Homo sapiens: one gene and its partners. The protein of the gene in region 4 purifies or fractionates together with the protein of the main gene of each other region. This does not show direct contact. Each region holds a gene or a part of one and is shown on either strand. Other genes may lie near its edges.

The links.
Region 1: the proteins of KDM6A (region 4) and KANSL3 purify together in Homo sapiens (affinity purification with mass spectrometry, with the first as the bait; one large-scale study listed by BioGRID). This does not show direct contact.
Region 2: the proteins of KDM6A (region 4) and DET1 purify together in Homo sapiens (affinity purification with western blotting, with the first as the bait; one study listed by BioGRID). This does not show direct contact.
Region 3: the proteins of KDM6A (region 4) and ASXL2 purify together in Homo sapiens (affinity purification with mass spectrometry, with the first as the bait; one large-scale study listed by BioGRID). This does not show direct contact.
Region 5: the proteins of KDM6A (region 4) and BOD1L1 purify together in Homo sapiens (affinity purification with mass spectrometry, with the first as the bait; one large-scale study listed by BioGRID). This does not show direct contact.
Region 6: the proteins of KDM6A (region 4) and N4BP2 purify together in Homo sapiens (affinity purification with mass spectrometry, with the first as the bait; one study listed by BioGRID). This does not show direct contact.
Region 7: the proteins of KDM6A (region 4) and SETD1B purify together in Homo sapiens (affinity purification with mass spectrometry, with the first as the bait; one large-scale study listed by BioGRID). This does not show direct contact.

What each region holds. Positions count from the first base shown.
Region 1 is NC_000002.12:96,631,389-96,635,395, forward strand, and holds part of KANSL3 (KAT8 regulatory NSL complex subunit 3), read right to left. Parts: intron 156-4,007; exon of another isoform or gene 95-155; coding exon 1-94. UniProt on the Homo sapiens protein: Non-catalytic component of the NSL histone acetyltransferase complex, a multiprotein complex that mediates histone H4 acetylation at 'Lys-5'- and 'Lys-8' (H4K5ac and H4K8ac) at transcription start sites and promotes transcription initiation.
Region 2 is NC_000015.10:88,536,312-88,540,318, reverse strand, and holds part of DET1 (DET1 homolog), read left to right. Parts: intron 1-3,937; exon of another isoform or gene 3,938-3,984; coding exon of another isoform or gene 3,985-4,007. UniProt on the Homo sapiens protein: Component of the E3 ubiquitin ligase DCX DET1-COP1 complex, which is required for ubiquitination and subsequent degradation of target proteins. The complex is involved in JUN ubiquitination and degradation.
Region 3 is NC_000002.12:25,875,324-25,880,105, reverse strand, and holds the start of ASXL2 (putative Polycomb group protein ASXL2), read left to right. Parts: upstream 1-1,618; 5' UTR 1,619-1,883; coding exon 1,884-1,940; intron 1,941-4,782.
Region 4 is NC_000023.11:45,110,053-45,113,605, reverse strand, and holds the end of KDM6A (lysine-specific demethylase 6A), read right to left. Parts: intron 3,528-3,553; coding exon 3,357-3,527; intron 2,225-3,356; coding exon 2,195-2,224; 3' UTR 827-2,194; downstream 1-826. UniProt on the Homo sapiens protein: Histone demethylase that specifically demethylates 'Lys-27' of histone H3, thereby playing a central role in histone code. Demethylates trimethylated and dimethylated but not monomethylated H3 'Lys-27'.
Region 5 is NC_000004.12:13,568,664-13,572,670, forward strand, and holds the end of BOD1L1 (biorientation of chromosomes in cell division protein 1-like 1), read right to left. Parts: intron 1,777-4,007; coding exon of another isoform or gene 1,773-1,776; exon of another isoform or gene 1,472-1,772; intron 1,466-1,471; coding exon 1,348-1,465; 3' UTR 75-1,347; downstream 1-74. UniProt on the Homo sapiens protein: Component of the fork protection machinery required to protect stalled/damaged replication forks from uncontrolled DNA2-dependent resection.
Region 6 is NC_000004.12:40,101,509-40,105,515, forward strand, and holds part of N4BP2 (NEDD4-binding protein 2), read left to right. Parts: intron 1-566; coding exon 567-1,710; intron 1,711-4,007. UniProt on the Homo sapiens protein: Has 5'-polynucleotide kinase and nicking endonuclease activity. May play a role in DNA repair or recombination.
Region 7 is NC_000012.12:121,824,358-121,828,364, reverse strand, and holds part of SETD1B (histone-lysine N-methyltransferase SETD1B), read right to left. Parts: intron 3,166-4,007; coding exon 2,999-3,165; intron 847-2,998; coding exon 715-846; intron 631-714; coding exon 511-630; intron 433-510; coding exon 295-432; intron 1-294. UniProt on the Homo sapiens protein: Histone methyltransferase that catalyzes methyl group transfer from S-adenosyl-L-methionine to the epsilon-amino group of 'Lys-4' of histone H3 (H3K4) via a non-processive mechanism.

The DNA of each region.
Region 1 (4,007 bases), on a different chromosome or scaffold from region 4:
ACACTCATTCATCACGCTGCGTGCCTTCTGATTGTCATAGAGTGGCATAGGCGTTGATGTGACCGTCTCCACATCTATTGGGACGTCTGATTCACTGTAAACAGGTGAGGAAATAGGACCGGGCCACACATACTTCACAGGTATTTAACAATCATCTGGTTGACAAAAAATGTATCTTTAATACAGTCAGCTTTAAATTACGCATAAGCACATTATATTCACAAGAAAATTTTGATCCAAAGTCATCTTTCCCACACTTGTCTAGATCTCTGCCCTCTCAGACATGATGGTATGTACTGGAAGAACACAAAGTCATTTTTTCAATGAGTCTATATAAAAAATGATAAACATCTATTTTTTTTTTAAGATAAATATGGGCCAGGTGCACTGGCTCACACCTGTAATACCACCACTTTGGGAAGCCGAGGCAGGTGGATTGCTTGAACTCAGGAGTTCAAGACCAGCCTGGGCAACATGAGGAAACCCTGTCTCTACCAAAAATACAAAAATTAGCTGGGCATGTGGCACACACCTGTGATCCCAGCTACTAAGGAGGCTAAGGTGGGAGGACTGCTGGAACCCGGGAAGTCAAGGCTGCAGTGAGCCATGATTGCATCACTGCACTCCAGCCTGGGTGACAGAGCAAGACCTGGTCTCAAAAATAAATAAATAAATGACAAATACAGCCAGACACAGTGATTCACACCTGTAATCCCAGCACTTGGGAGGCTGAAGCAGGAGGATCACTTAAGCCCAGGAGTGAGCTGGTCTCAAAAAATAAATAAATAAATGACAAATATAGCCAGGCACAGTGATTCATACTTGTAATCCCAGTACTTTGGAAGGCTGAAGGAGGATTGTTTAAGCCCAGAAGTTCAAGACCAGTTTGGCAATATGGCAAAACCCCGTCTCTAAAACAAACACAAAAATTAGCCAGGCATGGTGGTATGCGCCTGCAGTCCCAGAAACTGAAGTGGGAGGATGGCTTGCTTGAGCCCAGGAGGTTGAGGCTACAGTCAGCTCTGATCATGCCACTGCACTCCAGTCTGGGTGACACGGCAAGACCCAGTCTCAAAAAAAAGGACAATATATTCCATAAGCAAGTTGATTTGGCTCAAGCTAATATTTTTAAAAGATCACTTTCAATTTTTGTTTAGTAGGCTACAGCTCAGGAGTGGAATTTAGAAGACCAGCTAGGCAGCCACTGCAGTTGACTGAGATGGGCCAGAAATCATGAGAGCTCGTTTAGGGACAAGAACAGTACAAATGGAGAAAAGTGGCTAACAAGTTGATTGCCTAGATACTGTTCAATACAGTAGGTATAAGCCACACACGACTACTTAAATTGAGGCAGGTGGATCACGAGGTCAGATCGAGACTATCCTGGCTAACATGGAGAAACCCCGTCTCTACTAAAAATACAAAAATTTAGCCAGCCATGGTAGCAGGCATCTGTAGTCCCAGCTACTCAGGACACTGAGGAAGGAGAACGGTGTGAACCCAGGAGGCGGAGCTTGCAGTGAGCCGAGATTGCGCCACTGCACTCCAGACTGGGAGACAGAGCGAGACTCCATCTCAAAAAAAAAAAAAAAAAAAAAATTACTGGGCACAAGGGCTCACAAGGGCTCAGGCTTGTAATCCCAGCACTTTGGGAGGCCAAGGTGGGCAGAACACTTGAGCCCACAAGTTCAACAGTGTGGGCAACATGGTGAAACCCCGTCTCTACTGAAAATACAGAAATTAGCTTGTGGTCCCAGCTACATGGGAGGCTGAGGTGGGAGATCAACTGAGCCTGGGAGGCGGACGTTGCAGTGAGCCAAAATTGCACCACTGTACTTCAGTCTGGGTGACAGAGACCTCGGCCCAAAAAAAAAAAATTTAAATAGAATTAAATATTCAGGCTGGGCGTAGTGGCTCGCGCCTGTAAACCCAACATTTTGGGAGGCCAAGGCGGGTGGATCACCTTAGGTCACGAGTTCGAGACCAGCTTGGCCAACATGGTAAAACCCCATCTCTACTTAAAAAAAACAAAAATTAGGGTGTGGTGGCACGTGCCTGTAGTCCCAGCTACTCAGGAGGCTGAGGCAGGAGAATGGCGTGAACCCGGGAGACGGAGGTTGCAGTGAGCCGAGATCACACCACTGCACCCCAGCCTGGGCAACAGAGCGAGACTCTGTCTCAAAAAAAAAAAAAAAGGCCGGACATGGTGGCTCATGCCGGTAATCCCAGCACTCTGGGAGGCAGAGGCATGCGGATTGCCTGAGCTCAGGAGTTTGCAACCAGCCTGGGCAACATGGTGAAACCTCGTCTCTACTAAACACAAAAAATTAGCTGGGTGTGGCAGCGTGCACCTATAGTCCCAGCTACTTGGGAGACTGCAGCAGGAGAATTGCTTGAATCCGGGAGGCGGAGGTTACCATGAGCCAAGATTGCACCACTGCACTCCAGCCTGGGTGACAGAGCAAGACTCCGTCTCAAAAAAATAAAAAAATAAAAAATTCAGTTCCGTAGTGACGTTAGCCACATTTCAAGCATTCAACAGATACACGTGGCGGCAGTTACCACACTGGACATCCCAGGTATAGAACATTCCTATTATTACAGAGAGTTCTGTTAAACAGTGCTGGTCTAGAGTTTTAAATTCATACAAACTTTCCCTTTCATTAGCAAGTCAACTGGTAGTTATTTAATATATACTGTAAAGTCTATGATTTCCTTTCTGTATGATTATCTAAGACAGATGACCTGGAATGCACATACCTTAGCTACTTAGCTCATTTTGTACAGAGCCTAGAACAGAAACAAATATAAATGAACATCTAAAGGTCTTTCATATTTTAAAATGAGATCTAGCTGGGCATAGTGGCTCACGCCTGTAATCCCAGCACTTTGGGAGGCCGAGGCAGGTGGATTGCTTAAAGTCATGAGTTCAAGACGAGCCTGACCAACATGGTGAAACTCCGTCTCTACTAAAAATATTAGCCAGGCATGGTGGCGGGTGCCTATAATCCCAGCTACTTGGGAGGCTGAGGCAGGAGAATTGCTTGAACCCAGGAGGCAGAGGTTGCAGTGAGCCAAGATTGCGCCATTGCGCTCCAGCCTGGGCAACAGAGACTCCGTCTCAAAAAAAAAAAAAAAGAAAGTAAGAAACAAATCCTAGTGCCCCAAGGGTCCTTCCCCACTTTATGATACATTGCACCAACTTTGTCACCCCAAATACTATGCCAAACAAACTGGTCTAGTGGCTACCTGCCAAACTTTATGTTAACTTTTTGACTTCAGTGACCTTACTGCATCCATTTCCAATGACTGAAATAATTACATCATTATGAAATGAAATGAAATCATGTGCAGCTAGATTTGGTGGTGGGCAAAAGAGCTGATTATCTTCTCCAGGCCAGACATTGAGCTAGTACTTGGATATGTGTAGCTAAAAGAGAACTCTTGATTTCACCATCACAAACCTATCCTCCTCCAGTCTTCCCTAACTCATGGCACCACCCAACTGCTCAAGCCAGAAATCTGTCATCCTAATTTTACCTTTCCCTTTAACCCTGGTTCTTGCTCTTCCTTCCAATTCACCATAGCAGATCCTATTAACCTATTCACTCTACCTATGAAATACATCTCAAAGTCATCTATATTTCTCCATTTGTACTGTTCCTGCCCTATACAAGATATCACGATTTCTGGCCCATCTCAGTCCATTGCAGTGGCAGCCTGCAGCTGGTCTTGTAAGTTCTACTCCTGCACTATAATATACTCAACAAAAAATCCAAAATGATCTTTTTAAAGTATAAATTGAATCTCTAGTTTAAGATCCTTCAGTGACTTCTTACCACTCTTAGAATCAAATTCCTTCACGAGGTAACCCTTGCCAACTTCTCCCTACCTCCCACTTATACCCCTACTGCTATTATATTCTGGCCACACTGGCCTAAAAGAGTTCTTACAGCATGCCAAATTCTCACTTTCAGGGTCTATATTTGGAGACAGAGATTATAAAA
Region 2 (4,007 bases), on a different chromosome or scaffold from region 4:
CACATTGCTGTAGCTTTAAGATTGAGGGAGGGGGACTAGAGGCCAGCCTGAGGTCTCCTGGGTCAGTTGGATCTAGGCGTTCTCCCTCTTCTTCTAGATCTGTACCCTAAATACCTTTGGTGTCTCCATGACTCAAAGGCAAATAGCTTAAATTTAGCTCTTTCTTTCAAGGGTTCAAGGAGCGAGAGCAGAGCCAAGTCCTGGAGACACTGAACTTGCTGTCGCAGTGGAAACCGAAATGTGCAGAGTAGGGGGCAGGGACGAGGGGGAAAGGGACCACTCAGGTCATTTTTAAGATGAGAGAGTAGCCACAGGGGAACAGAGTAGGAGTCTAAACGAAGTAAAGCATGACAGGTGTAGGTTTCCCTACACAGTGTTCTGTTTAAGGGCACAGGAAAAGTTACAGAATGACAAAAAAGGTGAGCAAGGAAATCTGCAGGGTGGCTGTTTTGAACCCACCACCGGTTTAATCTAGAGGAGGTCCAATCACTTGGATGTGGGGTATGGCAATCTAAATGCCCACAACTTCCATGGTGCCAGAGATTTCAATCAGATGAATGTTCTTCACACTCATTCCTGTAACAACACCTTACTTGCCTCTGGCAGAAAAGACAGGACTGTGGTGGCCAGCCTGAACAACCGATGAGAAATTTAACCTCTTGTGACAAAAAAATCAGCACTAAGGACCTTGAAGAAGTTTTTACCCAGACGTCTTGGGCAATACCGACGTCCTGACATGCAAAACCTTGACAACCACTAAACAAGACAATAAACACTAAGCAGAAAAATAAACATAAAACAAACAATTTGACCCTAGGGCAGGTAAACAGTTTTGACAGTTTTTTCCTTTTTTTTTTTTTTTTTTTTTTTAGACAGACAAGGGGGGGCCCTCCCGTGATGGGATCAGTCAGATGCCCACCTGGTCACTTCCCCTGAGGGGACTTGGGCTCCTCTTAGCATTGGCAGGCCGGTATAAACCCCCGGCTTGGATCGAGCTATGTCCGATGCTGCCTTAAGCCTTGTGAGGTCGCCCCAGAACTGCAGGTGAGGGCCCACTCAAACTGTGTAGCTTTCGCCGTGGAGCTACAAACTGGAAGACAAATGCAAGCCTTTGTCCTCCCACAGTCACTCACCATTCACAGAGTTTATAACAGTTTTTTTTTTCTTTCCTGGAGATTCTCCAAGAAACTTGAATAAGAGAAAGAGAGAGAGAGAGAGAGAGAGCGGTCTGCCAGAAACCAAGGCTCAGCTCCCCAGCATCCTGGGTCTTCAGCTAAGTCCAAGGGAGGGGCCTGATCAGGACCACTTCCCACCTAAACCAAGACACAGAGGCGCCTACCAGAAAACCAAGGCTCAACCCAGTAGCGTCCTAGAGTAACGGGCTGAGTCAAAAGAGGGATGCCCTCGTCAGGGCCACTTCCCTCTTACCAGAACCAGAACAAAGTCAAATCTGACCTACCTGACCCCGGGGTGAGAAGCTGAGGACTCAGATGTTGAATTTTAAGGCACTGACATGGTAGTCGATCCACTCTCCTCCGGAAGGTGGTCACTGTTTGGGGACCTGAAAATTCTTTCCTCAGGTGGTAACCCCCTCTGAGCCGGCCGTCCTTCCGGGGGAGCCCGGAGCAAGACCAACTCTCACCCAGTGGCATTAATTTCTCGCTGGGGCCTCCATTATGTTGTACCCGGGGTGTTAGAGAAAACGCCACACTTTGAGACTAATTAAGAGTCCTTTACTAGCCGGTGACCGAGAGACGGCTAATGCTCAAAATTCTCTCAGCCCTGAGGAAGGGGCTTGATTAACTTTTATACCTTGGTTTAGGAAGGGGAGGGGGGGTCTAGTTAAAACAATTTTACAGAAGTTAGGTAGTCAAAAAGTTAAAAGGATAAATGGTTACAGGAAAGTAAACAGTTCCAGGTGCAGGGGCTTTATGACTATTACAAGGTGATAGACGTGGGGCTTTGGGTGTTATCAATCAGATGAATTCTTGGGGACTGTGGATATAGCTTGCCACAGTATCTTATCAGTTAATTGCATTCTTGGATGTGCTGGGAGTCAGCTTGCACAAGTTAAGTCCTTGAGGAAGGGGCTGCCAGTGAAAGAGCCAAGATGGAGTCTGTCTGGCTCTCTTAGCTAAGGGAGAGTCTAAAAACAGAGTTAGTAAAAACCAGTTTGGGCATTACAAGTGTCCCAATTCAGTCAGGCTTTCTTCTTTCGTTCCATAAAGTACCAAATGCCTACCATGTGCCAGTCCCAGTGCTAGGCTCTGAAAATACCGCATGACCGAGGTAGACCTGGTTACTTCCTGTCTGGAGAGTACAGGGTAGCAAGGGAATCAGACATTAAACACAAGCATGCAAGTGAAAGTGTAAATACAACTTGCAGTGATTACTATGGAGAAGACAAAATGTAATAATAACGGGAGTCCTGTTTTAGATAGGATGGTCAGGGAACACTTCCTAAAGGAGACTGCACTTAAGCTGCAACTTGAGAAGTTACAGCAAGGGGCAGGGGAAATGCATTCCAGGCAGAGGGAATAGTCCCTGTGGATGCCTGAGTTGACACAGAACTTCCCGTTAGACAGGTCCAGTGTTCAAGAAGGGAGGCTTACCATGTGTCAAACACTGTGATGAGCATACAGAATATAGTGTTTGCGTACTGGTCGGTGGGACATCACCATCTAATGAGGGCCATAAACATAAGTAAGATCTTCATCTCAGCTGCTCAACTCTGCCTATGTAGGGCAAAAGCAATATGTAAATGACTGGGTATGGGAGGGTTCCAGTGAAATTTCATTTACAAAAACTGGGAGGTAGGGGTCAGGTGTGGTAGCTCATGCCTGTAATCCTAGCACTTTGGGAGATCAAGGCAGAAAGATCACTTGAGCCAGGGAGGTCCATGGTGGTACCACTGTACTCCAGCCTGGGCGACAGAGTGAGACCCCAAAAAATCCAGGAGGTGAGAGATGGGCTAGATTTGGGCTGAGGGCGGTAGTTTGCAGACTCTTGCTCTAGTCTAGATCAGTATACATTTTATGTCTTTACTCAGTGCATGTAACTCCAATATAATTGAAATAAACGTTTTACAAAACAGTGCTTACCATTGCAATATATGATAGCTTGATACTTTCTATTTCATTTTTTAAAATGTCCGTAATACTATTCACTAAATTGATCCAAGGCTCTATTCATGAGGTGTGACTAGCAGTTTGAGAAACTTGCTCAGTCATGGAGGTATGTACATTTTTAACTTGACTGGGTATTATATATACTTATATAAGGCATTTGGAACCTTTTCAGAAGGAGACAGAATATGAATAAATACCTCATTGTGTGTACGTTTTAAAATACAGATTGGATCCAATCGCTCCCCTGCTTTCCAGTCTTTTTCTAGGCCTCTCTTATCACTCACTCTGTGCTTCCTGTGCTCTAACCACTTGAAATTGCTCTGTTTCCCAAATGTGCCATGTCATGCTTTTTAAAAATGTGTCTTTTAGCCTTTTAGGTACCTTTTTATCTAGTTTGTTCCTTTTTTTTTTTTTTTTTTTGAGATGGAGTCTTGCTCTGTTGCCCAGGCTGGAGTGCAGTGGTACAATCTTGACTCACTGCAACCTCTGCCTCCCGGGTTCAAGCAGTTCTCCTGCCTCAGCCTCCTGTGTAGCTGGAGTCCCCGCCACCATGCCCAGCTAATTTTTGTATTTTTAGTAGAGATGGAGTTTCACTATGTTGGCCAGGCTGGTCTCGAACTCCTGACCTTGTGACCTCCCTGCCTCAGCCTCCCAAAGTGCTGGTATTACAGGCGTGAGCCACTGCACCCGGCCAGTTTGTTCCTCTTTTACTTTGTTTAGTGTATTCTTATTCTTCAAGGCTCATACCAATTGTTGCTCCATTAATTATTTTAACATATTTATGAGCGCTTAACTGTCCCTTCTCCTAGGTGCTGGGAATACAGCAAGGAATTAGACCAGTTCCCTGCTCTCTGGTATGGTGGGACAGATACTAAAAAG
Region 3 (4,782 bases), on a different chromosome or scaffold from region 4:
AGTGTAATGGCGCGATCTCTGGGCTCACTGCAACCTCTGCCTCCCAGGTTCAAGCGATTCTCCTGCCTCAGCCTCCCAAGTAGCTGGGATTACAGGCGCATGCCACCAGGCCCAGCTAATTTTTGTATTTTTAGTAGAGATGGGGTTTCTCCATGTTGGCCAGGCTTGTCTTGAACTCTTGGCCTCAAGTGATCTGACCACCTCAGCCTCCCAAAATGCTGGGATTACAGGCGTGAGCCACCGCACCTGGCGAGAAGGCCTTCTTAGACTACAGACATAAGCTTTGGAGGGAGGTGGTACATACTACCTGTGTAATGCATAAGGCTATGAATTACCAAAGACATTTGGGAAAATATATCCATATCAATTGCTGAAATAGGCTGTTTGATCCATGACTGAACGGAAATATAAGGAAGTATCTAGATACTTCTAGATGGCCTCTCAAACTCCCTTTAATATCTTTTTCTCTTTTTTTTTTGCACAACAGATCCTTTTTGAAAAATGGAGGAAAAGTTATGAATCCTCTTAAAAAATTCACATATAACACACAAAATATAGTTCATAATTTTAGGGAGTCCATGAATTTCTGAAACGCATCCATAAACTTTAAGTATTGCTCTCACCTGTCTTTCCTCCCAAGAGGCAATCCAATCCTCAGTCCTATTTCACACTATAGTAAGTTTACTGGATTGTTTGGAAGCAGCTTCTGGAAGCAGGTGGATTTGGGAGATCAGCAGTTGTTACTACATTCTTCTTACTTTGCAAGGTATCAAGGTGTAGATGATGTAAGAGAAGATGCCACATTCTGGATCTTTCAGAAAGCTGTTACGGATACTACAAATAATGGTCTCTGACCACAGAAATAGGTGAATCATTCAGCAAATATTTACTGGGCGCCTGATATGTACAGGCACTATGCTAGGGACTGAGCTCACCGAAATAAAGAAGACACCATTTCTGTCATTGATGAGTAGCTTCACATGTAAAAGCATGGATGCAGTTACTGGTGGCCTTAAAAACAAAGTCACCTAAGTTTGAGGCATTCTGGGGAGATGGAAAGGGCTCTGAGCTGGCAATTTGATTTTTGGTTTCTCTACATCCCAGACTTATGAGCTTGGCAAGTCACTCAATCTCAGTTGCTTCGCCTATCGAATGGGGTTAATAGGCAGACGAGAATTGTTGCCTATCTTCAAAAAGATAACCTCTGTAAAAATGCAAATAAATGAGAAAACACAAACGCAGGGCTGATCTAAAGTGATAGTTGGCAGAGCCACCCACTGAGGGAAGAGTTCAGCTCCCCAGGTCTACACAGCCTGTGCAGCGCCTCGCAAGAGGCGGGATCCGCTCAGTAAGCTTTCCCGGATGGCACAGGTTCCGCTTCCGCAGGCAGATATTCGCTGTAGGTGTGAGCGCCAGGCGTCAGACTACAGCTACTGCCGGGGCCTCCTTGGCGCGCATGCTCCTGCGGAGAGGCGGAGACCGGAAGGGCGGGGGCGTGGCGAGGTACCGCAGACCGCCGGCTCGATAGCTCAGCGGCCGGGCTTGGGAGGCGGGGGCGCGCCCGCGCTCGTTCGCGCGGCCGGCTGCGTACAGTAGTGACGGCCGCGCGGGAGCGGTCACATGACCGTAGCGGCAGCCTGTACAGTAAGAACCCAATATGGCAGCGGCGGTAGCAGTGGCAACGGCAGCAAGAGGACCGGCCGCCCCATAGACCCCCCCGCGCACCACCCCCGCCGCTTCCTCTGCTTGGGTGCCCCCCCGGTCTGACTTCCCTTTTCTCCCACCTTTCCCGGCACCGCGGGAAAAGCAGCGCAGGGCAGAGCAGGCAGGGAGGGCGGCCGGAGCCCGGACACGGGAGCCTCCCAGTCAGTTCAAGACCCGACATGAGGGAAAAGGGACGTAGGAAGAAGGGCAGGACCTGGGCGGAGGCCGCCAAGACGGTAAGGGGGAGGGAGCGAAGGGGAAGGCCGGGAGGATTTTGTTCCCTTGTCGCCCGCCAGTCGCAGGGAAAGGGAGGTCACTGGCCCAGGGACCCGGCTGAAGGGGCACAAAACCGCGCGGAGAGGGCGGCGGTTAGTGTCGGGGTTGCGATCCCTGTGGGAATGGAGGCGCCCGGCGGAACGTGATAGCCGCGGGGCCGTGGCGTCCCTCGGCGTCTGCGGCGAGTCCTCTCAGTGTTTTGAGGCTGTCTTTTGGGGTCGAGCCGATATCACCTCCGCTCTGTGGTAGCCCTCGCCCCGGCACGGGGAAGTCTGTGGTGCTTGCACGGTAACCGGTTCTTCTCCCTTGTGCGGCTGGAGAGCCCCCATTGGATGCAGATAGGAGAAGGCTTGTGCGTGCATCCAGCCCCGGAAAGGAGAGGGGAGCGCTGGAGCTGGATAGAATTTACCCGTTACAGCGGACGTGCCTGTGACCCCGGGCCCCCTGTTTGTCTGGCTCCCGGAGCAGACGAGAGATCACGAGGCTTTTGTTTTTGTTTGGTGTTGGAGCCGAAAGTGCAGGAGGTGTTTAGAAACGAAGTAACAGGTGGGACTTGTAGAATTTTTTTTTTTCCTGTTTCCGTAGAGACCTACTCTGAACAAGGCAGCAATGCATGGTGGGACGTGTAGTTTACCCGGCCTTCACGTTACCCTAGCCAAAGGGATGGTGCCCTAATGAAGTTGTAATTAGTGGGCAAAACAATTTTCCCCCTAATTGTGTTATGACGAAATTTAGAGGTAGATTTTAAAAAGTGGAATATTGAGGATTAGTGAGAACTTTTACCATATTTTAAGAAGAAAAAATTAAAAGCATGTTGTATGCAGAAATGAAATGGCAGGAGATAGTGAAGTTCATACATCGTTGAGGGTGCAGCAGAAAAGTAATAGGGCATTAAACGGCAGCATTTTAATAGTGGAAAGTGAGAGGTGTTCACCCCTTTAATGGTGATTAATGCCGGTAATACTTCGACAACGTAGCCCTTCTTAGTGAACCCTTATTAGATGCCATATGGTTTATTTTTTAATGAGTTTTTTAAATATAAAAGTAATGTTCACTGTGGGGAAATTTGGAAAATTATAAAAAAGTATAAAGAAGAACATTTAAAAAAAATCACATTTATTTCACCGCTCGGCTGTATCTGCTAACATTTGGTATATTACCGTCTAGTCTCTTTATTTCCCCAAATCTAGGTCATACTGTTTATTCAGTCTTGTGCATTTGTTTCTAAACTTTGTGCATTTGTTTTGTAAACTTTATGCATTAGGAGGTTGATGAGTTTTCAATTTGTATCTCTCTTAGTTGGAAATGTAAAAAAGTTAAGAAATAATAGCACATTTTACTTACTGGGTGTTTTCACTTACAATATGTCTTTGTATATCTTCCTGTGCTAGTAGTTTCCCTCTAAAAGATAAGACTCCTATACTTTTTTTTGAAGGTGTAGAGGTTGCATCCCCACAGAGGGCTGTTTTACTCTCAGTATACCTCAAGACCTCTTTCTGTTAATAAAAGAAGCATGATAAATTTTAATTATAGGTAAGCAGACCTGGACCCTAATTTATGCTAATTAATTTTAAGTTCCTAGGGTCTTTAAAATTGTTTTTTTAATTAAAAATATTTTGTAGAGACAGGGTCTTTCTATGTTGCCCAGGCTAGGCTAGTCTTGAACTCCTGGGCTGAAGCAGTCCTCCTGCCGTTGGCCTCTCAAAGCACTAATATTACACAAGTTTCTAGAATCTTAGGAGTGTTTTTTGAATTATGATCCCTTTGATAAAATAGTCATTGGGAGATTGCGACAAATAGGAAAAATTAGTCTGCATCTACTTAGCTTTTCCTATGTTAGTATATTTGCTCATTTCATGCCCTAGCTAGCTATGTGAAAAATAGTATTTAAAAGATGGAAAGACTACTTTGATCAGTAGAGTTCCTGAGGGTACCAGTATATTAGTAGCTTGGTATTTTTCTTTGATTCTGGCAAATACATGAAGCCCCAGTCTCAGTGAAAATGTGTTTTAGAAAGAGAATGATGACACTAAAGTTTTTCTAGTAGCCAAAATCTAGAAAACACTCTTAATTTTGGGGGGTTATTTTATTACCTATAAGTGAGGGGATTAAACTAAATCTCGGTGTTCAAAATATTTCTGTTTTTGGGATAAATAGATGAAAATAAAAGAAGGACCGGGCAAAGGTACATTTGTAATATTTCAGACTGTAGAATAATGAAATCAGAAAATTAGTGAGTTGACAAATGAAAGTAACTTTGACCTAAATAAGAATGTTAGTATTTAGATCCAGAGGAATAGGAAAAGAAGTTTTAAGGCTTAAACTTATTTCTTAGGCATTAGGATGTCAAGTGTTCGAGGAACAGTTTCATCAAGGAAGCAGGTGTCTGTTTCTTATTTCATGTGTTTTTGATACCTCCATTGTAGAGCTATCATGTTTTAGAGAGTACTATTAAAATAAGGTTGTTTTCCTGACCAATAATATACCAATAGATATATTCAACACATTAAATGTAGATATGTGATACTGGGATGATACGGGGTGTGTGTGTTTATGTGGGAGAGCTACATGGTTTGATGTAAGGTTATTATAAGCAAAATAATAAGATTCATAATTATTATCATTATTATTATAATTGTATTTATTTATTTAGAATCGTTTTGCTATGCTCTCCAGGCTGGAGTGCAGTGGCTTCACAGGTATGATCGTGGTGCACTAAAGCCTTGAACTTCTGGTCTCAAGTGATCATCCTGTCCTAGCTTCCCAAGTAGCTGGGACTATAGGCATGTGCCACTGTGCTTG
Region 4 (3,553 bases):
TCTAAATGCCAGATAACTTATTCTCTTAAATGTCAGATAAATTAATCTTGGCAATAAACTATCTTAAAATCATAGAAAATAAGACATTGTGTCAGTAAGATAAACTAGAACAGGTTAAGAAACATTTAGGTGGTGCTTCAGCATTCTTATAATCTTTGCTTCTTGATGGTTGGCTTGCAATTTTTGTTTGCAAAAATGTTTGTCTTGAGTTCTCAATAACCTTTGGATAGGAGATTTTACAAGAAAACCACTTAAAAATATTAGTGATTAAATGTCCTGAATAGCATTTAGACAAGCATTCTTGCTCCATAATTAAAATAGATTTGGCATTTTTCCCTTAAATTATAAATAAGAGATGATTACTTCTAGTAGATAGCCAATATTTACCAAATTATTAACTAATCGAAAAAAGTATCTCCATGCTTTCAACCTTCAAACTGTTTCTAAGAGGATAACATACTCTAAATCTGAAAGAGTATGTGATTAATGCAATCAGCAGGGCATTTCACTAGATAGAATAAGCTCTCTTTAGCCATATATATATATAATCTTGATTTACAGCATTCTCTATGCTTCTTCACTAATGCTTCCTGGAAAATTCATACAAAGAACAATATGATTAAATGAGAGTATGTGTCAAATGCGTCAGAAAATGGAGGTACAAATGCAAGGTGCTGTTATTACAAAATGAAATACTATCATTAATTAGCAGTGACTTGTGAATGCTAATATAGATTGCTATATTTTACTAGTGATAGGGAATTTGCAGCACTCCTCCCCCAAATCATGTCATGCAAGCAAAAAAGCATGAGATTTCAAAACTGCCTAACATTAAAAAATAAGTCTCTTAATTTATTTGCATTCTAAAATAGAGCCCTTCATCCTGAATCCCCTTTTCCATATAAAATGGTACTAAGTATTGTACAGGATTTGTCAAGCCCATATAACAGTCCCTTTAAAATCTTAAGTTCAATCACTATTTGTTTTCTACTATTATACTACATTTTGGCAGCAATTGTTTATTGGTCTGTCATTGCAGTAATTGCAACTTAACAATAAACCAGTCTGACATTTTAGGTCTTGAGGATACATACCATATATATTTCTTTAAAAATAATCATACTTTTTGTAAGCAATACTTTACAGTAGACACCTCAAAAATCTACCATAGATGTGAAACTTAAAACGAGAAAAATTTAAGTTCTAAAGATTTATACATATATATCCAGATTTCTATATATATTATATATACATACATAAGTATATATAAAATATATATAATCAGATTTCAAAAATGAACAAAAACTGGGCACTGTACATAAAGTCTTTTTTAAAACTCAAACAATAGAAAACTCTTTAAACATTAAACAATTTTAATAAAAGTTTCTGTACAATGCTAAGCAGTTTTATTTACACATAGAAAATGTAATAGGAGTAGTGTTTGAAATTACAGAACTCCTTAAAATTTCAATGGCAGGTAAATCTGGAAAAAATAACAGCATTCCATTCACAAATATTTTCAAGCAATAAATATGTATTTATAAATAGTGTAAATTTACATCAAGATTAGAAACAAAAATCACAAATCTGAAGTTTATTCCTTAGTCTATGTGCAATCCATTACCTTTGTGACTTGGCTGTTAATTTTTTAAATTTTATTTAGGAACCAAAAGTGTAACCATCATGGTCTCAAAACAAGACAGAAAAACATAAAAGCAGTAAAAAAGTGTCTTACCTAACTTTTCACATTAAAAAAAAGTTGACCAAAGAAAGACTTAAAATTGCTAACTACCTTACAAAGAAATGACCAGCTAGGCTAGTATTTTTTTTCCAAGGAAAATTCTGAAGGGGGAAAAGACAGATGAAAACAAATTCATCAGCCCAGAAATAGAGAAATATAAAAGAGGTTGTCTTCAAGTCAGTAGTCTGTAAGATGTTGCCAGTTTTGTCAGATATATACAAAACATGGAAATTATTATTTTTTTCTGAAGTACAGCTCATCAGCTTTGTGAGAGTCCTGGAGTAGGAGCAGTACTCTCTCCCGTCCAGTTGGTTGACACTCCGCACTTGGAAGGTTGCATAGACACAGTTTTCAGCCAGCAGCCTTACGAGATAGCTACAAAAACCAGTGGTGCAGAACTGGGTTATTTCCTGAATAGCAGAAAAGGTCTCATTTAATGTCCATGGAACAATATCAAGATGAGGCGGATGGTAATGGAGGAGCCTGAAAATAAAAGTAAGGTAGGTTATTTTGATATACAAATTGTTAATAGCTCATGGCTACAAACATATAGTCTGCTTGTGAAGTTAGGGGAAATAACTCTCAAAAAGTTCAACAGCCTGCTATGCAACATAAAAGTACAGCCTACCTTACTATCTCCCATTCAGCCAATCTTCCTAAGAATCTAAGACCATTATCCTACTCAGTGTACTTGCAATTTTCTATACTTCTTCACCAATTAGTCAAAAACTCTTGGAATGTTATTACGTTTACCATTTTTTAAGATTGCTTAAAAAAAGGGGGCTTCTTGCAAAATAATTTAACAAATTACAATTTCACTAGTGACTGCCTTCAGAATCTATCTCAGCTAGGTAATATATTTTCTTCAACATATTTCAGATAATTTTCTTCTTCAAGCAATCTTGAAGACCATTCAAGTGAAAATATCAGAAAGTAAATTTCAAAAAGTTAGTTTCTGATCACATATGTGTGGGAGACAAGTACTGGAGAAAATCAACAATTCATAAATTATCTCTGTGTTTCTATTCATAAAGCTATTGATCTGCGAAAGTAAAATGCTTCCCCCAAGCATCTGCTGTCTGAAATTAAAAACTGTGCAATTTATAAGTATACTTGAATTTCATAAGGTTACATAATATACCAGGAAGTTAAGCTCCATTAAATACTCCCATGAGGTTAATACTTCTGGCAAGGACAAAATTTTAAACAAATACAATTAGCTCTAAAAGCAGAAGTATATTTAAAAGCACACTTACTGATTCATTTTGTGGGCTCTAATAACCTACGTACACAAACATTTTATCAACTGAGATAAAATGACATAAAGGATATGATAGTGTTCTATCTAAAGCACGCAAAGATTTTTAAATGTAATTGTTGTAAAATTATTTAGGCTGGTCTCACCCAGGAAAACTGAAAATGATATATGCCAATTTTATAGGAATAAATACTTGGAAATGGAGGGGGGAATGATATGAATATACCCTCATGCAATATATAATGAGCCAAAGGAAAATTTAAAATATTTCATTACCTCCTACTTATCAGGTGGCAGAGCAAACACTGCTGCTTCATAACCCAGCTAACTATGTACTCACATGTTGATTTGACTTACTAATGTAAATTGGTCATAGACTTGCATCAGGTCCTCCATTTTGTACTGTTCTAGCACCACAAAGTTTTCCAAGTTTCCGCTTGTTTTTCGTGCACAATCTTGGCAATGTACTATGTAGGTCTTTCGTGAATTACTCTCATTAGTGACAAAAAGCAGATCAAAAACCTCCACCTGTTTTATACAAGAGAAAAACGTAT
Region 5 (4,007 bases), on a different chromosome or scaffold from region 4:
ATTATTTAGAGAGAAGAAATGGTTTTCATGCAGACACATTTTAAAACACACAAATAAAATTCTTACCACTCAAATTTTGGTAAACATTTTATAATTTATATATAAAATCTCAGTAAGAAACCATGTAAAATGACAGAAATATCCACCTTACATTAAGAGTCAAAATAAAAAAAAAAACCCATACACACTGAATGTAAATTTTAATTATAAAACAAGAATATGAACAAAACATTTTAAAATAATCTCAATTATTTGGCAACTCATCACATCATTGCAAGAGACAAATTTGATCGTAAGAAGTTTAATCTTATGAAAAACTGAAGTTGGACAGTTTGCTCATATGAGAGTTAAAACATGTTTAAAAAAACACTTGGCAATAAAGCCAGTTTCTATACTGAAATAACTGTGTATAAAACAACATAAAATCCTGAAACTGGATAGACAGGAGGGACCTAATCTTGAATGCATTTCTCTTCACTGAAAAAGACAATATGGAAAGAGTATTGGTAGAAGCTTCAGAACAGCACAGAAGAGGAATGAACACAGAGAAGAGGAATGAAGAGGGATTTCTGCTGCAGGTGACTGACGCAACTTTACCTGAACCAGAACCTGTTTTGTGTCAACGTGGCTGGTAGTAAAGTCACAGATGCAAGTATAATCTAAAAACAAGTTACATTCTTAAAAAACAGAGCCACAACTGTGAACAGAAAAGCAATGAAGAACCTTTCTTTAGCTAAACTACTTTACTTGGATACATGCGAGTTTCTGCCAGATCATATTAAGATAGTTACAGAGCAGGCAGAGTCCTAAAAAATTTTCTACTAATGACTGCATAGCATTTAAAACCCTTTTTATTTAAAAAAAAAATAAAGTAAAATAAACAGATATATAGTAAAGTTCACAGATAAGTTTTCTCTGTAAAATAAATAAAGTGTTCATTGATTAGCATCATACATAGAGTAAAATACAACCTATTTTTACATGTTTATATACTATACACAGATTACCAGTAGGCAGCCTGGCGTCTGATGGGCTGGAGGGGTTTGCATTCATGATGTGTCACATTGGGAAATCCCAATTTTGAATGTTAAAATATACAACTACTTTGTTTTGAGTTCAGATACAAAGTAAACTTATTGTCCTTTATCTGAAATAAATGTACATAATATCTTCTATGAACAATAGTTTATAAAGCTGTTTAAAACATAACAAGAAAAAGCTTGCACCTAGGGACTTACAGCACATGCATATCTTTTTCCTGGTTAAAGAGAAGCCTATGGCCACCAAGGCATGTCTCTTTCCTCTCCACCGTGTTCCTCCATAAGCCTAGGGCAGCAGTGGTCAGGATTATCGCTTCGCTTTTTTCACAGGGGCTTCCTCCACCCTTTGCTGGCCTCTTGTTCGGGCCCCAGGAGGGCTGACTTCTCTCTTGCGCTTGATAGAAGGGGAGAGCTGTGTCTTTGATCTGCATTAAGCAAAGTCAAGGCAATGGTGAGGTTTAAAAGCAGCTGCTTCAAATAACTTGGGAGTTCCTTAAAAAACAGAAGAGTTTTGAACTTGACAGCTAAGAAGAGAAAAACCCAGTAACATTTATACATGAAAAGGAGCTACCTCGCGAAGAGCTTGAACTAACTGGTTATTTGCTGTCAACCTCACACACAAACACAGGACACTGGAAGAGAAGTTTGAAGCCTGTGCTCTGGTTCCAGCTCTACCACACTCTAGGTGCTGATGGTGCTCAAATCCACTTCCTTCTCTGGGCCCTAGTTCTTTCATCTAGAAAACAAAGACATCAACAGCGGGTCCCACCAATATACAGACTGTCCCAAGTTCAAACAACTAGCAAGAACACAGCAGGACTGCAATCTAGGTTGGACCAAGTGCAAAATCATGTTTCGTAGCACAGTATTACAGAAAATACCTGTGTTAGAAAAGGCACGGGAATTTCAGAAGAACATTCTAACCAATCTCCCTATCACCAGCATACCCTGTTGATATAGTCTGTGATTAAAATTATTTGTTGGAAACTCCAATTAATCATGTTACTGTCCTAGAGATGTATGAAGTTCCTCTTGGGTCTCTGATGCTTTCAGGAGAAAATCATCCAGAGCCTTTTATAGTTCTGCCTTCTACTTGTGCACCATCTGGGCCTGTAGTCCTGCACCTTCCACATCACAAAGCAAGATGCCCCATCTTTGGAATCCCCCACAGAGAAATGTGACTTTATTGATATGAAGACTTTAGGTCTTTACCACAGCATTTACCATTGTGATTCATCTGCTGTGTTTTTTCAAACTGCAAGTTACAATCAATATTTTAAAACAACATGTTAATAGGACACAACAGAAAATACCACTCATATCACATCTATTAAATTTGACTCATGAAATTTTGTTTCAGTTACAGCAGCAGGAATGTGAGCACCAGCTGTATTGCAAAATATTCTTATAGTGGGTTGTTGCCAAAAAAGTTTGAAAGTCTTATACACATATATCTCCCCCATTAGACACGATGATTCTCTAGGGCAGCTGCTGAGATTTATTCATTTTTCTAACTCCAGTGCCTAGTGCAATGCCCAACACATGGCAAGCGGGCAGTAAATGTCCTGTCAATGAATCAAAGAGTTGGAAAACCAAAATTGCAGGAGATGGAGAAATGGGACTCTTAGTGATATGAAGACACGTCTTCCGTTTCTTGTTTGACAGCAAAAGTAAATAAACTGAGTCAAAAATTGTTGCAGATGATGTGGTTTTGACATGTGTTGACAATGACTGAAAATGTGTTTGTTGATAATCCATTTCAAACTGTTTCCATGGAAAGCCACCAGCCACTCAATGAACACCTCTTCAGTAAAGGTGCCGTGCGCAGTATTGTGCTGGGGGCCAAGTGGCAGCCAACAGAAGCTCTGAGTCAGGCTGCTTCTCCCCAGCCATGTGAGCTTCGTAGTTTATCCAGGCCCTTCTAGTCCACCCAGAATGTGGTCTGTGAGGAGGGGCATTGGTCACTGAGGAGCTTGTTGGAAATGCCAACTCTCAGGCCCCAGCCTAGACTTACAGACCCAGGATCTGCATTTTACCAACAGCCTCAAGTGATTTGACTGCATGTTCAATTTTGAGTAGTATGCATGGAAACCTTCCTGAGATTCTTTCCCTCACATATAAAATAAGAGTAACTATTACAATTCACTCACTGAGGGTTAAATGAGAGCATGTATGTGAAACTGCCTGGCACTATAGTTTGCTTTCGTTTCTAGAATGTGCGGAAAACAGCACATACATACAAGTATGCTGTGAAGATGAAAATGTGGTAAGAGGTCAAAACAGTTTTTGTGTACAGTGAAGAGTCTTTTATTTTTGAATATGATAATGTATAGAAAGTATGACAAATTCCTATCTCAAGAAAGAAACCTAGAGCTCAGAGGGGTAAATAAAAGGAATATACCAAACCAATGCTATGTGGCATCTCAAGTGCCCAGTACTGACCAGAAGTGCAGCAAGAAGAGATGAAAATGGGCTGAAGCGGGACGGAAAGGATCTGACTTACTAGGGGTGCTGGTGGTGAGGACACTCCTCACTGGCTCAAGCAAAGGCAAGAAAGGAAGGCTCAGGACCACCTCTGGGAAGCAGTAAGACCAGTAAGGCTGCAGTGAAAGGTGTAAGCTGGCAGGGGCCGTGCCTGAAAGAGGAAGCTTTATCACCTCATCACCTCTCCAATGCTCTAGCTAAAACAGAAATGATTCTGGGCTGTTAAATGCTTTACCACACTGCCTTGCCTTTGGTCTTGGTGGATGGGAGAAGGCAGATAAGGCTCACAGGTGTCAAGGACAAGCCTGTGTGGCAGTCCACTGCGGCAAGGCCAGACTGGTGAGGCCACACAGACACCTTCTGCAGCCCTTCCTGTTCTTCTTGGAAACCAATGATCCCCAAAAACAGTTATTTGGTGAGACAAAATCTTAAAGGAAATTAGGAAGAAAGCATTATTGTACCAAAAATAGTCTTAGGGGGTTA
Region 6 (4,007 bases), on a different chromosome or scaffold from region 4:
TAATTGTTTTAAATCTCTATTAGATTGCAAAGTTCTTTGAGCATATTAAAGATTTTTTTTTACAAAATATTTCTGATATGCAGTACATGCTCAAATATTCTTTGTAGTAAGTGAAATTCATAGCGTGGATCATGTAAATAAGTTAGATTTACTAAGAGAATACATAAAATACTTAATATTTAAAAGTTTGCATGCAATAGGTAAGTATTTGTTAAACAACAGGCTTTAGGACTTTTATAAATAAGCCTAATATGTCCAATTACAGATATTTATGTATTTACTCAATTCAGCAAATAATATTTATTTGATGATAGTTTATTAGCTTGGTTTATTACTGTTTTCCTGAAAGAATAGGATTGCATGTCTCCATCATTCAGACTTTTTGCTACTACAGACTTTGGTATGTTAATAAAATATTAATTTTTTAAAAATAACATGAATATTGTACATTTATATTCTGTTCAATGCAAAATCCAATATAATTTTAGCTGGATTTTAATAAAATTATTAAATCTGTTTTCTCTGTCTATATTTTTGTTGTTGTTATTATTCTTGTTGTTGTACAGTTGAAAATGCTATGGATTGTCTATTAGAATTATCTGCCACTGATACCAAGATAGAAGAATCATCTTCACAAAGTTTCGTTGCTTCTGAGAACCAAGTAGGTGCAGCAGAAAGTAAAATAATGGAAAAACGTCCTGAAGAAGAGAGTGAAGATTCAAAAATGGATTCATTTTTGGACATGCAGCTAACTGAAGACCTGGATTCCTTAATACAGAATGCTTTTGAGAAATTGAACTCTTCTCCTGATGACCAAGTATACTCATTTTTGCCTTCACAAGATGTTAATAGTTTTAATGACTCAAGTGAGTTTATAAATCCTGATTCAAGTAATATGACTCCCATTTTTTCTACACAAAATATGAATTTGAACGGTGAAAATTTAGAGAATTCTGGTTCTACTTTAAGTTTAAACCCATTACCTTCACATTCAGTTTTGAACGAGTCCAAGTGTTTTATAAAGGATAACACATTGGCTTTGGAAAGTAACTACCCGGAAGATTCTCTTCTCAGTAGTTCTTTAAATGTAGCAAGTGACTCCATCGCAGGTTGTAGCAGTCTCAATCAAAAACAGAAAGAACTTTTAGAATCTGAGTGCGTTGAGGCTCAATTCTCTGAAGCTCCTGTAGATTTGGATGCCAGTGAACCTCAGGCTTGTTTAAACCTTCCAGGGCTTGATTTACCAGGTACAGGTGGGGATCAGAAATCTACTCGGGTCTCTGATGTGTTTCTACCTTCCGAAGGGTTCAACTTCAAGCCACACAAACATCCTGAACTGCCAACTAAGGGGAAGGATGTGAGTTACTGCCCGGTACTTGCTCCTCTCCCATTGCTGTTGCCTCCTCCGCCACCTCCACCGATGTGGAATCCAATGATTCCTGCTTTTGACCTCTTCCAAGGAAACCATGGCTTTGTAGCTCCTGTTGTAACCACAGCTGCACACTGGAGATCTGTCAACTACACATTTCCACCCTCAGTTATTTCTCACACTTCCCCAACAAAAGTATGGAGAAATAAAGATGGAACAAGTGCTTATCAAGTACAAGAAACCCCAGTTTCTCAGGTTGTAAGAAAGAAGACATCTTACGTTGGACTAGTTCTTGTTCTTCTCAGAGGTCTTCCGGGATCTGGAAAATCTTTTTTGGCAAGGTATGAGGTTTGATTGGGTTTTTAAAAAATAGTATAATGTCTGAATTTGAACACAAGTATGAATAAATAGGCAAAATGCTTTGCTTAGTAGAGATCTTTAGTAACCCCTAAAATGTTTTCTTTTTACTAAGGTTTCCTAACTTTGTGTAGCTAATAACACTGTTTTCTGTGGAAGTTTATTGAAACCGTTCATCTTGGAATATCTCTTTGAAAGACAGAAGAAAAAATTAAAGACAATTTCAAAATTGTGAGCTATTGATGTAGTAGTAGAAGAGAGCTAATTTGAGTGGGAGAAAGATGAGTTCAGCTTTGATCACAGAGTTAAAGAGATATAATTGATCTTGATTTCATGGAATGGAAGACTTAAATACATTAATTTTACTGGTAGTTGGAAATTCAGGATTATAGAGTGTTGTTAAATAATGCTTTTAGAAATGTGTGATTTGAAGGAAGAGAGTATAGGATGACAACTGGTAGTCAGAGAACTTCAAGTTTTCAGGGACTTTTCTGTTCCAAAATAGAGTACCATCAGTTATTTGATCTCATATATACACCTTTATCCCTTCTGTAGTTAAGGTAGGCTGTGAGTGCCTTAATCTGGGAGACAGGAGTCAGTGTTAGAGGCAGCTTTGTAATGGTTTCAGTGGCACTCCTTGAAGAGTATTGTTTTCATAGTCCCTCTCTATCCCTGCTTAACCTTTAAATTCCAGAAGATTTCACCTAATCTATTTTATATGCTAGTTCTTTTTTTTTTGAGACGGAGTCTTGCTCTGTTGCCCAGGCTGGAGTGCAGTGGCGCGATCTCGGCTCACTGCAAGCTCCGCCTCCCAGGTTCATGCCATTCCTGCCTCAGCCTCCCGAGCAGCTGGGACTACAGGCGCCCACCACCACGCCCAGCTACTTTTTTGTATTTTTAGTAGAGACGGGGTTTCACCGTGTTAGCCAGGATGGTCTCGATTTCCTGACCTCGTGATCCACCCGCCCCGGCCTCCCAAAGTGCTGGGATTACAGGCGTGAGCCACCGCGCCTGGCTTGCTAGTTCTTTTTTTTTTTTTTTCCTTTTTCCAAATTTTAACCATTAGCCTTCTAACATTATCAGTTGGGTCTCTATTTGATCCTGGGTGTATCTAGTCTAGTCTTAATGAATATGCATAGATAACTGGAGAATGTCCTTCATAAACTTATTTTTAGTTTTTTTTTTTTGATATCTTTTCTGTGTCTGGGTTTCTCTGCTAGTAAATTTCCACATATTCTGCTGATACACTTATAAGCATATTTTTCAGTAGACATGTAGGCTTTTCTAACTGACTTAATAACAACAACAACATAAAACAATTTAATATTATAGATGTTACTGTCAGTCATGGCAGTGTGTTTCATGAAAGAGATTGGACTGAAAGGTGGTACCTTAGAAGGCAGTTGAGCTGTGAGACAAGTTTGAAGAATAGGTTTCAGGGGCCTTTAGAATCAGAGGCAGCTACAGTGTGGGTAAAGAAAAATGTGCTTTTCACAAGGTAGAAACTTAATATTTTTTGAATGAAGAGAGAGAAATAACAGGAAGAGTGTTGAGACATAGAACCTGCGTTGTCTTTTTTTTTTTTTTGGAGACAGAGTCTTGCTCTGTCGCCCAGGCTAGAGTGCAGTGGTGCGATCTCGGCTCACTGCAAGCTCCGCCTCCCAGGTTCACGCCATTCTCCTGCCTCGGCCTCCGGAGTAGCGGGACTACAGCCACTGCCACCGCGCCTGGTTAATTTTTTGTATTTTTAGTAGAGATGGGGTTTCACCGTGTTAGCCGGGATGGTCTTGATCTCCTGACCTTGTGATCCGCCCGCCTCGGCCTCCCAAAGTGCTGGGATTACAGGCGTGAGCCACCACGCCCAACAATCCTGCGTTGTCTTGAAGAGAATGGTCTAGTATTCAAACCAAAGGAAAACGATGAGTGGAAAAAGCCTTTTGAATTTATTGGAAAGAAGGTCATAAATGGATATCTGAGAAACAATTTTGTTGTCCTGTGAGGACAAAAGGGTTTAACAAGCTCTGATGATGGAGTTAAAGGAAGGAGAGAAGTTGGGTAGTAGTTGAAAGGGGTCCCAAAGTGTAGTTACAATTTTTTTTTTTTTTTTTTGACAGAGTCTGACTCTGTCACCCAGGCTGTTGTGCAGTGGTGTGATCTCAGCTTACTGCAACCTCCACCTCCCCAGGTTTATGAGATTCTCCAGCCTCGGTCTCCTGAGTAGCTGGGATTACAGGTATCTGCTGCCACCCCCAGCTAATTTTTATATTTTTAGTAGAGACAG
Region 7 (4,007 bases), on a different chromosome or scaffold from region 4:
GCAGAGAAATAACTCCGAAATTACCAATGAACTGAACCAACCACTTCTTTGAGTCCTCTAAATGCCACAGAAGTCTCACTATGCCCATTTGACAGATGAGAAACTGAGGCTCAGAGGAGTAGAGCTCCTGGTAAAAGACCTCACATGTCCTCCTCTCCCTATAACCCTTGGCCAACCTGAGCTTGGGAAGGAGGCCGAGCTGATTCCCGTGCCGGGGCTTCCAGGCCCTCCTGGCACAGAAGCAGGGCCAGGGGCAGGAGCAGGGGCAGGGGCCACCCCCCGCTGGGCACTCACGTTGCAGCTGTGGTTGATGAAGCGCGCGAAGTTGCCGCACTTGGTGGCGTCGATGATGGTGTCATGGTCCACCCGGAACATGTAGCTGCTCCCGATGCCCTCGTCCTCATAACGCTTCTCCCGCATGTCTGCGATCACCTGGCCACAAAAGGGGGTCAGTCTGGCTGGGCCGGCCCCATGCCCACCCCGGTGCCCATCCTGCCGGGCGGTGCCTACCTGACGGATATTCTGGCCCACGTACTCGATGACCATCTCGTCAGCCGCGATGGGCTCCATGGCGAACAAGCCCCAGTCGTGAATGTGGCTCTTGCAGAACTTGAGCTTTTTCTTCCGGAACTGTGGGAGGGAAGAGGGGGAGAGGTGAGCCCCGGTCTCAGGTCCTGCCGCCACCCCGGCGATCTGGGTGAAGCCCGGCCTCACCTTGAGCTGGTTGAACTTGAGCAGGTCACTGTCACAGCTGCCAGTGAAGGAGGACAGCAGGCGGCGCTGCTCCGAACGCCGCTCCGAGCCTGCCCGGGTGGAGGCGTGGGGCTGTGCTGGGATGCTCATGCCCTGCAGTGGACGGTGTGCGGGGCTCAGCGGAGCTGGCCGTGTCCTCGGCGGTCCCACCCTAGGCTCTGGATCTCTGTCATCCCCAGTGTCCTGGGCTCCTTGCTCTGGGCTTCTCCACACCTGTCGGTCCCTAATTGTCACCGCTTCCCTGCCTCCTCCATCCCATCAGTATCTGAGCGTCTCAAGCTCCTTCTATCTTCAAAACGACGAGACTCACTCTTGCCTGGCGCTGTCTTTTCCCCATTTCAGCCGAAAGTTTTGTCTACCCTGACCCCCTCCTTGGCTCTCACCCAGACCCCTCTCACCCCACAAGCGTTCAAAATCGGGGATCCTTCCGAAACCCTTGTGTCACGTCCTGCTCTTGGCCTCCCTGGGCCTCTGCCCCAGCCATTAACCTTTGGAGCATCCCAGGCCTCTGCCCCAAGTGCCCTCCCAGGTGAGGTCACCCTGCTGTGACCTTCAGTCACCACTTCTCTCCTGGCGATGCCTACACTTAGGTCCCCGGGCCGGAGATCCCCATCCTAAGCTCCGCCATACCCACATGCCCACCAAGACCTCTCTGCCTGGGTGTTTTCAGAACCCGCAGAACTCAAGCTGCCTCGTGGTGATAGCATATCAGCCTCCCCATCTCAGGCCTGGTGTCCAGCTTCCCAGCACCCCCGACCCCAGCCACACCCTGGGCTGTCACCCCCCGCCCATCCCTGTCTCCTGTACCCAGGCCAGCCCTGGTCCTGTCCATCCCACTTCCTCATATTCTTCCACAGCTAATGGCTCCTCGCGGCCCAGCTAAGTCCGGCACATCCGGTCTGGAAACCGCAGCAACCCGAACAGTCTGCCCTCAGGACCCCTGCACCAGCTCCACACCACCCCAGCTCCTCTCACAACCTCCCTCTGCTGCCTGTCACCCCAGGAGACAGGTCACTTACCACCACAGTACCCCCGACCCTGGTGGCCTGTGCTGTCTCTCCCACAAGTGGCCTCTCCCTTCCCTTCCTCACACCATGGAGCTCCCTGCTGCCTCAGGGCCTTTGCACTGCTGCTGTCCTAGGGAGGCCTGCTGGGGTCAGTGAGCCCCTCTCTGGTTTTAACTTTTTATGGAAGTCGCTTTTTCACTTCTCTGTAGTCTCTCTGGCATCCACATGGCGCCTTCCCACACTTCGCCTGGGTCTGACCCTCTCTGACTCCCCTTTGACTTGGTAATCCCTAACCCCTCTCCTGTTTTCTCCATCGCATTTTCCCTGCCTGGAATTACGTGCTTCTTTCTTCACTTGATTATTTCCTATGAGTCCCCATTAAAATATAAATTCCAGCTGGGTACCGTGGCTCACACCTATAATCTCAACACTTTGGGAGGCTGAGACGGGAGGATCGCTTGAGCCCAGGAGTTCCAGATCAGCTTGGGCTACAGAGTGAGACCCCGTCTCAATTTTTTTTTAATTTAAAAATAAAAATAAATAATTAAATTCCACGAGGAATAGGATTTGGTTTTGTTCACTGCTATAGACCCAGAACAGTGCCCGGTACACAGCATGTACTCAACAGATATTTACTGGATTAAAAAAAGAATGAATGAGGCCATGCGATGTGGCTTATGCTTATAATCCCAGCAGTTTGGGAGACCAAGGCAGGCGAATTACTTGAGGTCAGGAGTTCGAGACCAACCTGGCCAACATGGCAAAACCCCATCTCTACTAAAAATACAAAAAATTAGCCAGGCATGGTGGTGGGCACCTGTAATCCCAGCTACTCAGGAGGCTGAGGCAGGAGAATCATTTGAACCCAGGAGGCAGAGGTTGCAGTGAGCTGAGACTGTGCCACTGCACTTCAGCCTATGTGACAGAGCAAGGCTTTGTCCCCCCCTAAAAAAAAAACCCAAGCAAAAAACAAAAAATGAATGAACTTGCGGAAATACAGCTCCGTCACATCCCTAATTAAACCCTTTGGAGGTGCTCCAGGGCCCATGGGACTAAGGCAAACTCCTTCCTTCTCCTAGGCCCCGCCCACCCGCCTCTCCCCTTCCACTTGCACCCTCTGTGTGCCAGCCCCTCTGGCCTCACAACTCCTCCCTCTGCCTGGCACCCCTCCATGAGTGCCCTGGATCCCCGTGGCCCAGCCCAGCAGGCTCTGATGTGTCCAGGAGCCCTGGCAGTACCTGGGTGTCTGCGGGGGGCTCATCGGTGCTGGCACGGCTGCTGTTGAGGTATCTGAGCTTGTCCTTCTTGTCGATGGTGTAGAAGCCCTCACTGCGGGCACAGCCCGTCACGTGCTCGCGGATGCCATCGTCCCGTTTCTTCTTCTTAGCTGAAGAGAGGCTGGTGGGTGGGTGTGGGTCAAGGGCCACATGGACATTCTGAGAGCCCCTTCTGGTCCCTTCATAGACTGGTCCCGCCCATCCTCAGACCACCCTTCAGGGACAGCGATGTCCAGTTCTACTGCCCACTCCCATGCCACCTCCACGTGGCTGCCCGCTGACCAACCCTGCTGACGGTCAATACCTAGTTGCATGGCTCTAGGTGTCTTTTTTTTTTTTTTTTTTTTTGAGACAGGGTCTCCTGTTGCCCAGGCTCGAGTGCAGTGGTGCAATCTCAGCTTACTGCAGCCTCAGCCTTCTGAGCAGCTGGGGCTACAGGCGTGCGCCACCACACCCAACTAATTTCTGGATTTTTTTTGTAGAGATGGGGTTTTGCTATGTTTCCCAGGCTGGCTTCAACCTCCAGAGATCAAGTGATCCATCCACCTCGGCCTCCCAAAGTGCTGGGTGTTTTAACAACTTTCTGCTCAGTTTCCCATCTGTAAATTGGGGTGACAGTGATGCCTCTCTGCAAGTGATGAAATATGCTTATGGTCCTTAGCAGAGTTTTTTTTTTTTTTTGAGACAGAGTCTTGTTCTGTCACCCAGGCTGGAGTGCAGTGGTGCGATCTTGGCTCACTACAACCTGTGCCTCCCGGGTTCAAGCAATTCTCCTGCCTCAGCCTCCAGAGTAGCTGGAATTATAGGCATGTGCTACCACACCCGGCTAATTTTTGTATTTTTAGTAGAAATGGGGTTTTGCCATGTTGGCCAGGCTGGTCTCAAACTTCTGGCCTCGAGTGATCCGTCCGCCTCAGCCTCCCATAGTGCTGGGATTACAGCTGTGAGCCATGGTGCCCGGCACTTGAGC